Homo sapiens: one gene and its partner. The protein of the gene in region 2 interacts with the protein of the main gene of each other region in a biochemical or structural test. Each region holds a gene or a part of one and is shown on either strand. Other genes may lie near its edges.

Region 1 (5,839 bases), about 140 Mb from region 2:
CGCAATTGACCCTTGTCATTCTCCACCTCCTTTACCTCCTTCTAACTCACTGGGTTCAACAAAGATGAACAAAATGTCCATATGTCTGAAGCTTCATACTTGACCTTGGGGTCTCAGAAAAGAATTGAACTTTCTTCCTTCTGTTTTCCCCTGCTCCCCGGTATCCTGCTATGCCCTCAACCCTGAGCGTCTCTAGAGACCTCACTGCAGTCTGGAGGGGGAAGTGCCTAGGGGCGGGCGCTCACGGTAGGCTGTGCTGCTCCTCTCTTACCACCCCCACCGCCACCCTCTGCCCCCAGGGAGAACAGCAGCAACATCCTGGACAACCTGCTGTCCCGCATGGAGCAGTACGCGAACAATCTGGAGGAACTGGTGGAGGAGCGGACCCAGGCATACCTGGAGGAGAAGCGCAAGGCTGAGGCCCTGCTCTACCAGATCCTGCCTCAGTGAGTGCCTGAGTCTGGGGACCCCCCCCAACACAAAGCCCCTGTCCCGACCCCCAACTCTGATCCTGCACCTGCCCTGACCCCTTAGCTCAGTGGCTGAGCAGCTGAAGCGTGGGGAGACGGTGCAGGCCGAAGCCTTTGACAGTGTTACCATCTACTTCAGTGACATTGTGGGTTTCACAGCGCTGTCGGCGGAGAGCACACCCATGCAGGTAGGCCAGGGTTCAGCCACAGGTGCCAGGCAAGCTCAGCATCTGGATCCCACCAGACCTGCCTTCTGGTTCTGCTTTACCCACCTGACCCCAGGTGGGGTCCCCTACTTCCTGTCTCTCTTAGCTTCTCTTCCCTTCCAGGTGGTGACCCTGCTCAATGACCTGTACACTTGCTTTGATGCTGTCATAGACAACTTTGATGTGTACAAGGTGAGGGTGGGAGTGGGGATGGGAAGGGACAGACAGACATGGACAAGGTCAGAAAAAGATGAGGGGTAGGCAGAATGATGTGGAGTCTTAAGAGAGGAGATCGGGGACACGGGCAGAGACAGTGACACAGGGAGACCCGGGAACAGGCAGAGAACCCATGTGGGATGGGGGATGAGCAAAGACAGATGAGGGTACAGAATGACAGACGCTGCACCCGGTGTGACGGTGTGGCCGGCCGCACAGTTGCAGCCGTCAAGTCCTGCACCCCCTCGCCACTCCCACAGGTGGAGACAATTGGCGATGCCTACATGGTGGTGTCAGGGCTCCCTGTGCGGAACGGGCGGCTACACGCCTGCGAGGTAGCCCGCATGGCCCTGGCACTGCTGGATGCTGTGCGCTCCTTCCGAATCCGCCACCGGCCCCAGGAGCAGCTGCGCTTGCGCATTGGCATCCACACAGGTAAGGCCACTGAAGGTGCAGGCGGGCATCCAGAGGCCAAGGCTTCGCAAGGGAAACTTGTCCCCTGGCCCAGCCCCTCGCCCTTTCATCTCTCTCTCTCTCTCTCTCTCTCTCTCTCTCTCTCTCTGTCTCTCTCTCTCTCTCTCTCTCTCTCTCTCTCTCACACACACACACACACACACACACAGAGCTGGGACCTCAGATCCTGCCTCCTGCCTGTCTTGGATTGTCCACCTACCTCCCTTAACACCCCTCCCTCCCTCACTCGCTGATGGGCTCTGCTCCTTCCCTTGCTCCTCCCAGGACCTGTGTGTGCTGGAGTGGTGGGACTGAAGATGCCCCGTTACTGTCTCTTTGGGGATACAGTCAACACAGCCTCAAGAATGGAGTCTAATGGGGAAGGTACAGTGCCCCCTCCTAGAGGGAATGGGGAGGGCAGGGTGGCTGAGGGAAATGCCATCCTGGGGCAGCCTGTGCCTGCACAGCCCGTTTCAGCTCCTAGCCCTTTCGCCTCCCAAGTTCCCCTTCTCATAATATTAAGAGTTCAACCTGGGCTCATCAACTTGACTGTAACCAGAGACTCAGGTTCCTGCTGCCCCTCTTGTCAAACGATGTAAAAGTATTTCCGGGCCAGTGCTGGAGAGTTCCCAGCAGGAATCTGATTTTAAGACCCTCTGTGGGCCGGGCGTGGTGACTCACACCTGTAATCCCAGCACTTTGGGAAGCTGAGGCAGGCGGATCACCTGAGGTCGGGGGTTCGAGACCAGCCTGACCAACATGATGAAATCCCGTCTCTACTAAAAATACAAAAAACTAGCCAGGTGTGATGGCAGGCTCCTGTAATCCCAGCTACTTGGGAGGCTGAGGCAGAAGAATTGCTTGAACCCGGGAGGCAGAGGTTGCGATGAGCCAAGATTACACCACGCACCCCAGCTTGGGCAATAAGAGTTAAACTCTGTCTCAAAAAAAAAAAAAAAAAAAAAAAAAAAGACCCTCTGCTCCACCTTTGATGTGGTAAAGATGGCTTCAGAGCCAGCATAAGTGAGGCTGTGAATCTCAGCTCCACAGCTGGCTGTGTGTCAGTTTGCTATACCTCTCTGAGCCATGGTTTTCCTCATCTGTAAAAAGAGGGAAAAAATCTATCTCACAGGAATTATGTGAGAAACCCATTAAAAATGTCTACCACATAATTGTCATTTAACTTTTCCAAGCCTTAGCGGATTATCTGTAAAATGATGTCTATCTCAGGATTGCAAGAAGCCTAGCACAAACCCTGGTACCCAGCAGGCACCTAATAAATTCTTACTCCTACCCGCCCCTTGCTCTTGCCTCCTGTTTATCTTCTATCCTTCTGCTGTATTCGACACAATTCAATGCAGTAAACATTTATTGAGTGACTACTGAGTGCCAGGCCCTGGGATAGTAACATGGCCCAGATCCAGAGTTAGCTGAGAAATTCATGTGGACCCCATCTAAACCTTATGGTGAAAGAAAGGCTGCTTGGGAGCCAGTCCTGGGAGCCCAGAGGGATCTAGTTCGGCAAATATTCCCTGGGCACTATTTTGGGGGCTGTCAGAGTACAGCCCCTTGTTGAGGGTCCAGTCCTCAAGGAGCACATTCCCAGAAATTGTTCAACATTCTGGGCGCTGGGGGTGCTTGTAATCCCAGCACTTTGGGAGGCCGAGGTGGGCAGATCACTTGAGGCCAGGAGTTGGAGACTAGCCTGGCCAACATGGTGAACCTCCTGTCTCTACTAAAAATACAAAAAATTAGCTGGGCGTGGTGGCACGTGCCCGTAATCCCAGCTACTCAGGAGGCTGAGACATGAAAATCACTTGAACCCAGGAGGTGGATGTTGCAGTGAGCCGAGACTGCACCCCTGGGCAACAGAGCGAGACTCTGTCTCAAAAAAAAAAAAGAGAGAAAGAAAGAAAAGAAAAGAAAGAAACTGTTAAACACAACAAGGCCACTGTGATTGATGCAAACCCCAGAAGTAGGGACATGAGTTCAGACAGTGGTCAAAGAGAGGGTGTGGCAATATTGGGCCCCACTCCATCACTGACCTCCTCAGCCACTTGGGCAGATCACCCTGGGCCTCAGTTCCTCGGCCACAAAATGAGGGTATAGCATGAAATCATGAAAGCAACAATTTACATAGTGCTTCCTAGGTAGCACATTCCGTTTGAATACTTTATGGATGTTAAATTTAATCCTCACAACAAGGTTTTGAGATGGGTACTGACACTATCAGCATTTTACAGATTAGGAAAATGAAGCAGAGAGAATTTATTTTACATACCTAAGCAAGTATCCAAGCTGAGGTTCATACTGAGGCAGTGCAGGATCCAAAGTGCCAGCTCCTAACCACCATGCTGTGTAGAGCCGGGTGACACTCCAGAGAGTGCTGTCCAACAGGATGTTCCATAGTCATGAAAATGTTCTGTATTCTGTGCTGTCCAATACAGTAGCCTCTAGGCACATATGGCTACTTATCACTGGAAATGTGACGGGTGCAACTGAGGCCCTGATTTTTTTTTTTTTTTTTGGAGACAGAGTTTCGCTCTGTCGCCCAGCCTGGATGGAGTGCAGTGGTGCAATCTCGGCTCACTGCAACCTCCGCCTCCCAGGTTCAAGCGATTCTCCTGCCTCAGCCTCCCAAGTAGCTGGAATTACAGGTGAGTGCCACCACACACAGCTAATTTTTGTATTTTTAGTAGAGACGGGGTTTCGCCATATTGGCCAGGATGGTCTCGAACTCCTGGCCTCAAGTGATCCTCCTGCCTCAGCCTCCCAAAGTGCTGGGATTACAGGTGTGAGCCACAGCACCCAGCCTGAATTTTTAACTGTATTTAGTTTAAATTAATTTAAGTTGAAACAGGCACATGTGATTAGTGGCTACTGTATTGGATTACACAGCTCCAGAGTTCTAAATGAGAGGCTAATGTGGTCACGCACTACATTCAGGGGGTGGGGCCCCTCTGAGCTAGAGGGCTTCCTGGCCCAAAAGAGGGAGAGAGGGTACCTGTCCACCTGTCCACCCCCACAGTCCCTGGTCTCTTTTGCCTCTACTTTCCTGCTCTCCTCTCTCACATTGCTCACCTTCCCTTCTCCCCTGTCCTACCCAGCCCTGAAGATCCACTTGTCTTCTGAGACCAAGGCTGTCCTGGAGGAGTTTGGTGGTTTCGAGCTGGAGCTTCGAGGGGATGTAGAAATGAAGGTAGAGGGAGAAGCCTCTGCCCTCCCCACCTTTTGGGGTCCTAGAGGGAGTTACCCTTCTCAAGCAGCCAATGCCACTCCCATCCCTAAGGCTCTCATCTGACTGGGGAAAGGGCATGTGCCACTCCCCAGCCCATCCTCTTTTTTCCCTCCAGGGCAAAGGCAAGGTTCGGACCTACTGGCTCCTTGGGGAGAGGGGGAGTAGCACCCGAGGCTGACCTGCCTCCTCTCCTATCCCTCCACACCTCCCTACCCTGTGCCAGAAGCAACAGAGGTGCCAGGCCTCAGCCTCACCCACAGCAGCCCCATCGCCAAAGGATGGAAGTAATTTGAATAGCTCAGGTGTGCTGACCCCAGTGAAGACACCAGATAGGACCTCTGAGAGGGGACTGGCATGGGGGGATCTCAGAGCTTACAGGCTGAGCCAAGCCCACGGCCATGCACAGGGACACTCACACAGGCACACGCACCTGCTCTCCACCTGGACTCAGGCCGGGCTGGGCTGTGGATTCCTGATCCCCTCCCCTCCCCATGCTCTCCTCCCTCAGCCTTGCTACCCTGTGACTTACTGGGAGGAGAAAGAGTCACCTGAAGGGGAACATGAAAAGAGACTAGGTGAAGAGAGGGCAGGGGAGCCCACATCTGGGGCTGGCCCACAATACCTGCTCCCCCGACCCCCTCCACCCAGCAGTAGACACAGTGCACAGGGGAGAAGAGGGGTGGCGCAGAAGGGTTGGGGGCCTGTATGCCTTGCTTCTACCATGAGCAGAGACAATTAAAATCTTTATTCCAGTGACAGTGTCTCTTCTTGAGGGAGAGAGGGTTGCCAGAAAACAGTCAGTTCTCCACTCTCTACTTCAAATAAGACTCACTTCTTGTTCTACAAGGGTCTAGAAGGAAAAGTAAAAAAAAAAGACTCTCGATTCTTAAGCTGGGAATGCAGGCTCTGAGAGTAGTAACAGCCTATGAATTGCCCAGCAGTGCTGAAACTGGTTTAAGGACCCATTTACATCCTTAAGAATTATTATTATTGGCCGGGCACAGGGGCTCATGCCTGTAATCCCAGCACTTTGGGAGGCTGAGGTGGATGGATCACCTGAGGTCAAGAGTTCAAAACCAGCCTGGCCAACATGGTGAAACCCAGTCTCTACTAAAAATACAAAAATTAGCTGGGTATGGTGGCACGCGCCTGTAATCCCAGCTACTCAGGAGACTGAGGCAGGAGAATCTCTTTTTTTTTTTTTTTTTTTGAGACGGAGTCTCGCTCCTTCGCCCAGGCTGGAGTGCAGTGGTGCC
Region 2 (6,380 bases):
AAAAATTAGTTGGGTGTGGTGGCACGTGCCTCTAGTCCCAGCTACTCAGGAGGCTGAGACAGGAGAATCACTTGAACCCAGGAGGCGGAGGTTGCAGTGAGCTGAGATCGCACCACTGCATTCCAGCCTGGGTGAAAGAGGAAGACTGCATCTCAAAAAAATTAAAAAAAAAAAAAAAGAATCCCTGGAACAGAGCCACACCGTGAGTCAGCCACGGGCAGAGACGAGCCTGCCTCCTGCCTCCTGGGTCAGTGCTCCTCTGTTTCCTCCTTTGCTTCCCCCAGGTGCCCAGTGCTCTCATACCATCCACTTTGGCTGCCCAGGACTAGACTGGAGATTGAGGCCAGAGGGAAGCTACAGAAAAATCTTGCAGCTGGAGTCCTACTCTCTGACTAGTCAAACCTTGTATTCTGCACAGCTTCTTCCTTCTGCAGAGAGCATAGGGGTGGTAGCTGATCCATTAACCAGCCCTTCTAGCCTCTGCTTGTGCATCTGCTCTGCCCAGAGTGCCCTCCCCATCTTCCATCTTCCTTCTTGTGGCTAACTCATTCTTATCCTTCAAAGCCTTAGCCCAGCCCCACCTTCTCCAACAAACTCCCTTCTCGACTGCGCACTCCTGCTGTGCTCACAGAGCATCCAGGACTCACTGCCACTGTATCTGTCACTCACTGTGGCAGCCTGGGGAGCCTGTGATTGTGCCCACCTTTCCCCCTGCACTGTAAGCTTCTCAATGGCAGGGACTTTCTTGTCCGTTATGTATCCCCACCTTCCAGCAGAAATATTAGATTTTAACCTGCACAGTCTCATTTTATGCTCACAACAACCCTATGAGGTAGCCATGAGAAAACAAGGAGAGAGAGGAAGCAACTTGCCCAACACACAAAGGTAGCAAGAAGTTGATGTGAAATTGAGCCCAGACTGTGATTTCAGTCTTGGGTCTGGGCTACTGTGACCCCAGGGTCTCGGTGAAAGTTTGTTGAATGACTTAAGGGTCTTATTTCTTTCTGTGTGGCCAGATTAAGCACTTAGAGTTGGATGGTGGTGGGGAACCAATACTTCTACCATAACAACATTTGCTGAGGGCTTACTATGGGAGAGACACTATGCTTGGCATTTGACATATACTCTATTAATTTCCCATTGCTGCTGAAACAAAGTCTCACAAGCTTGTTGGCTTAAAAGAACATGATTTTATTTTCTTACAGTTCCAGACATCAGAAGTCTGAAATCTGTTTCACTGGGCTAAAACTAAGGTATTGGCAGGCCCATATTCCTTCTGGAAGCTCTAGGGAAAAATCCATTTCTTTGCCCTTTCCAACTTCTAGAGGCTGATTACATTCCTTGGCTCATGGCCCCTTCCTCTATCTTCAAAGCCAGCAGTGTAGTCTCTTCTCTCCTCTCTGACCTGTTCCCATCCTTACATTTTGTCCCTCTGACCTTGATCCTCTGGCTTCCCTCTTATAAGGACCCTTGTGATGACATTGAGCCTTCCTGAATAATCCAGGAGAATCTCTCCACCTTGAGGTCCTTAACTTAACCACACCTGCAAAGTCCTTTTTACCATGTAAAGTAGTATATTCGCAGATTCTGGGGATTAGAATATGGACATCTTTTGGGGACTATTATTCAGCTTACCACAGACATCATCAAATTTAATCCTTGTACATTAATGCTCCAACAGAGGTGTTATGATTAGCTTCATTAAATAGACTTGGAAAGCACATAGCATATGACAGGCCCTCGATAAATGTTGATGGGGCTGATCTGGTGTGAGAGTTAGTTGACAACATATCCTCCTCCCTGGACAGCAGGCCTTGGAGGATGTGTCTAGTTCTGTGTCTTCCTCAAGTCTTCTTCCACAGTCCCCTCCACTGGGGACAGATAGAAACTCTGTCAGAGTGTATGACACTTAGACACTTAATTGTCTCACTTGGGGTCACTTTGTCTCCCCAGTGAGATCACAATCTCCTTCAGTGTAAAGACCAACTCTCATGTACTACTAATTATTTGGCCCTTTATACAGTGCCACGGGCTTTTGCAGATATTATTTTTTTCCTTTTAGTCCTTGCAAGGACTGTCCATTTTGCCGAAGAGCAAAGTGAGGCTCTGGCGAGATGCAGAGTCAGTTTTTGATGGTGCTGGTTGATGAATCCTGCCTTGCTCTGAACCCTTTATCTCATGGTACTCAGCATGAGGGGCTTTCTGCACCCTCAGCAGCCTCTCGCCCACTGACTCCCCTCTGCACTTGGCTGAATTTTCTTACCTCTTTAGCTTCCTCTTAGCCTTTTGATACTCTTACTGTGGCATGCTCATGTGCACGCACACACACACACACACACACACACACACACACAAAACTACCCCAGCCCCCCAGAACATTTCCAGCACTGGTGTCTTTACACAGCCCTTACCCACCCACCTCCATTTATATTTCATCTGCAAAATGCTCATCTGAGCCACTTCCCATTCTTTCTCCTGCACACACAGTCACCACTAGAATTGCACATCCCCCACAGCACAGCTCCCAGAGCCTTCATAGATGACACGGGATTCACCTAAGCTTGCTTTTTGTAGAAACACCTTGTGATCACCCTGGCAGTGATTATGAGCTTCAGGTCTGGAATCAGACTGCTGGCTAGACTAATCAGACTGGTTAGAATCCAGGATTTATCATGTGTCAATTGTGTGACTTTTGGAAAGTAGATTAATTCATGAACACCATTTCCTCCTCTGAAGTGAGGAATAATAACCGTGCTTTTCTCACCTCAGGGGCAGATGCTATTTTTTAGGCAAGATCTGCTTAGAGGTCCCAGTTTCTTATTGCTGCCCTTCTCTGCTGTAACTCTTCTCCCCTCATAGACAGCTCCACTCCTCCAGCCTGCTGCTTGTTGACACCAATTCTCTGGAAGGGGAGTGACATCAGTCATATATGCTTTAGGGGGGTATTTAAGCTGCTATGACTCTTCTCAGGGGCATTTCTCTCCAAAGTCTCACTTCTAATCACCAGGCCACCTGCTAATGATAATTAGATCATGGGTGGTCAGATGAAGGAGGCACTGGGAGAGGGGAAATCCCCATATCTCTGGTATCCCAGCAAATAGATAACCATCATTCCAGCCATCCTTTTGTTTTCTTTCTTTCTTTCTTTCTTTCTTTCCTTCTTTCTTTCTTTCTTTTTTCGCTCTCTGTCAACCAGGCTGGAGTGCAGTGGCGTGATCTCAGCTCACTGCAACCTCCACCTCCTGGGTTCAAGTGATTCTCCTTCCTCAGCCTCCCGAGTAGCTGGGACTACAGGCGCCTGCCACCATGCCCAGCTAATTTTTGGTAATTTTAGTAGAGACGGGGTTTCACCGTGGTCTCGATCTCCTGACCTCGTGATCCGACCGCCTCGGCCTCTCAAAGTGCTGGGATTACAGGCGTGAACCACCATGCCCAGCCTATCCTTTTGTTTTCCATCCTGTGTTGGCTTGGTGGGGGAGAGGAGGTGTTGACACGTGGAGGACACACATATAAGGCATTCTTGGGTGACTTCGTCATCACTGGACCCTATCTCTCAAAATTCCAGCGAAATCTGCTCTTCCCTTTAAGGAGTGAAAGAAGGGTCAGCATTCCAGAAGTTCCTGGTCATACCCAGGCTTTTAATGAATTGCCACTGGGGAATCAGCATCCCGTTGCTGTAAGGACTATAAGATGGCGGATTGTGAGAGCATAGGGAAAGGTCTCGGAGGTCTCTTGTCCTTGCTCCACGCAGGTCTTTCTGGCCTGAAAATCCCGTTGAAGAGAGCAGCTCTTGAGAGTTTGCTCCAAGTTCCCTCGGGGTGATCAGCACCACGGACAGCGGCCAGGGCGCCCCCGAGGACCCGCAGGCAGGCAGGGTGCACAGCGGCGAGCAGGTGCTGCGCTACGTGCGGGCCAGGGAACTCGCGCGGGGAGGGGAGAGGCGCCGCGGGTGGCGGGGTCTTGGCCGGGGCTGTTTTCGCTGTGAGTCACCCCGTGCTCCCCGCGCTCACGTCGGTCCTCGGAAAGCCGGGGTCCTCCCTGCCTTTTCCAGCAACGGTGGGGTGGGGAGGCAGGAAGAAAGCGCCAACCTAGGACACCTGGACATTTGCAGGAAAGGAAGAAGCGGGAGACGGGGACTTGTCTGTGTCTCCAGCGCGTTCCTGCCCCCCGGCCCGACCCGGCCCATTTCTATACAAGGTCGGCTCTGCCCGGTCTCCACCTCCCACGTCGCAGGCGCGGAGGGGCTCATTCCCGGGCCCTGATCTCAGAGGCCCGGAATGTGGCTGATAAATCAGAGATAACCCTGCATGGCAGGGCAGGCCCGACACTCAGCTCCAGGATAAAAGGCCACGGTGTCCCGAGGAGCCAGGAGGAGCACCCCGCAGGCTGAGGGCAGGTGGGAAGCAAACCCGGACGCATCGCAGCAGCAGCAGCAGCAGCAGAAGCAGCAGCAGCAGCCTCCGCAGTCCCTCCAGAGACATGGATCCCCAGACAGCACCTTCCCGGGCGCTCCTGCTCCTGCTCTTCTTGCATCTGGCTTTCCTGGGAGGTCGTTCCCACCCGCTGGGCAGCCCCGGTTCAGCCTCGGACTTGGAAACGTCCGGGTTACAGGTGAGAGCGGAGGGCAGCTCAGGGGGATTGGACAGCAGCAATGAAAGGGTCCTCACCTGCTGTCCCAAGAGGCCCTCATCTTTCCTTTGGAATTAGTGATAAAGGAATCAGAAAATGGAGAGACTGGGTGCCCTGACCCTGTACCCAAGGCAGTCGGTTCACTTGGGTGCCATGAAGGGCTGGTGAGCCCAGGGGTGGGTCCCTGAGGCTTGGACGCCCCCATTCATTGCAGGAGCAGCGCAACCATTTGCAGGGCAAACTGTCGGAGCTGCAGGTGGAGCAGACATCCCTGGAGCCCCTCCAGGAGAGCCCCCGTCCCACAGGTGTCTGGAAGTCCCGGGAGGTAGCCACCGAGGGCATCCGTGGGCACCGCAAAATGGTCCTCTACACCCTGCGGGCACCACGAAGCCCCAAGATGGTGCAAGGGTCTGGCTGCTTTGGGAGGAAGATGGACCGGATCAGCTCCTCCAGTGGCCTGGGCTGCAAAGGTAAGCACCCCCTGCCACCCCGGCCGCCTTCCCCCATTCCAGTGTGTGACACTGTTAGAGTCACTTTGGGGTTTGTTGTCTCTGGGAACCACACTCTTTGAGAAAAGGTCACCTGGACATCGCTTCCTCTTGTTAACAGCCTTCAGGGCCAAGGGGTGCCTTTGTGGAATTAGTAAATGTGGGCTTATTTCATTACCATGCCCACAATACCTTCTCCCCACCTCCTACTTCTTATCAAAGGGGCAGAATCTCCTTTGGGGGTCTGTTTATCATTTGGCAGCCCCCCAGTGGTGCAGAAAGAGAACCAAACATTTCCTCCTGGTTTCCTCTAAACTGTCTATAGTCTCAAAGGCAGAGAGCAGGATCACCAGAGCAATGATAATCCCCAATTTACAGATGAGGAAACTGAGGCTCAGAGAGTTGCATTAAGCCTCAAACGTCTGATGACTAACAGGGTGGTGGGTGGCACACGATGAGGTAAGCTCAGCCCCTGCCTCCATCTCCCACCCTAACCATCATCACCCTCTCTCTTTCCCTGACAGTGCTGAGGCGGCATTAAGAGGAAGTCCTGGCTGCAGACACCTGCTTCTGATTCCACAAGGGGCTTTTTCCTCAACCCTGTGGCCGCCTTTGAAGTGACTCATTTTTTTAATGTATTTATGTATTTATTTGATTGTTTTATATAAGATGGTTTCTTACCTTTGAGCACAAAATTTCCACGGTGAAATAAAGTCAACATTATAAGCTTTATCTTTTGAAACTGATTTGTCTTGGCGCATTAAAAATAATCCCTCATTTCAAAGAAACCAACCCAACTAAAACCACAAAGCCCTGTGATCTCAAGGCATCTTCATGGTGGGATGAGGATGTGGCCTCAGAGGTAGCAGGCTTTCTTTTCTTTCAGAGTTTTTAATGCTCTGAAATGTTATTGAATATCTCAAGCACTTGAGGCACTTGGGAGAAACTGCTTTTCAAAGCAGGGCAGGATACGTGTGCAACCTGAGGGCACGTATCCAGCCGTTTTCTCCACTCGTCCTTGCTCTGCCTGGAATTCCACCATTAAAGCACTCTCCCTGGGGATTATTGCTTTCAGGTCTCAGCTAAAATGTCAACGACTGGGGGCAGTGTGTGTGGGTGTGGCTCATCTACATTCCCATACCGGGGTGAGCCCTCCATCCTGCCCCAAATATCAGCTTTGAAACTCCAATTCCTGGGGTCATCCTGCAAAGGAGCCTTCAAAACTCCAACCCACAAAGTGAGAGGGGTCTGGCAATCAGCCCA

The links.
Region 1: the proteins of NPPB (region 2) and NPR1 form a complex in vitro, tested with the Homo sapiens proteins (2 studies listed by BioGRID).

The regions. Positions count from the first base shown.
Region 1 is NC_000001.11:153,688,654-153,694,492, forward strand, and holds the end of NPR1 (atrial natriuretic peptide receptor 1 precursor), read left to right. Parts: intron 1-299; coding exon 300-446; intron 447-534; coding exon 535-658; intron 659-799; coding exon 800-868; intron 869-1,051; exon of another isoform or gene 1,052-1,140; intron 1,141-1,152; coding exon 1,153-1,327; intron 1,328-1,630; coding exon 1,631-1,729; intron 1,730-4,452; coding exon 4,453-4,544; intron 4,545-4,698; coding exon 4,699-4,761; 3' UTR 4,762-5,339; downstream 5,340-5,839. UniProt on the Homo sapiens protein: Receptor for the atrial natriuretic peptide NPPA/ANP and the brain natriuretic peptide NPPB/BNP which are potent vasoactive hormones playing a key role in cardiovascular homeostasis.
Region 2 is NC_000001.11:11,856,933-11,863,312, reverse strand, and holds NPPB (natriuretic peptides B preproprotein), read left to right. Parts: upstream 1-4,367; 5' UTR 4,368-4,479; coding exon 4,480-4,611; intron 4,612-4,843; coding exon 4,844-5,099; intron 5,100-5,641; coding exon 5,642-5,658; 3' UTR 5,659-5,849; downstream 5,850-6,380.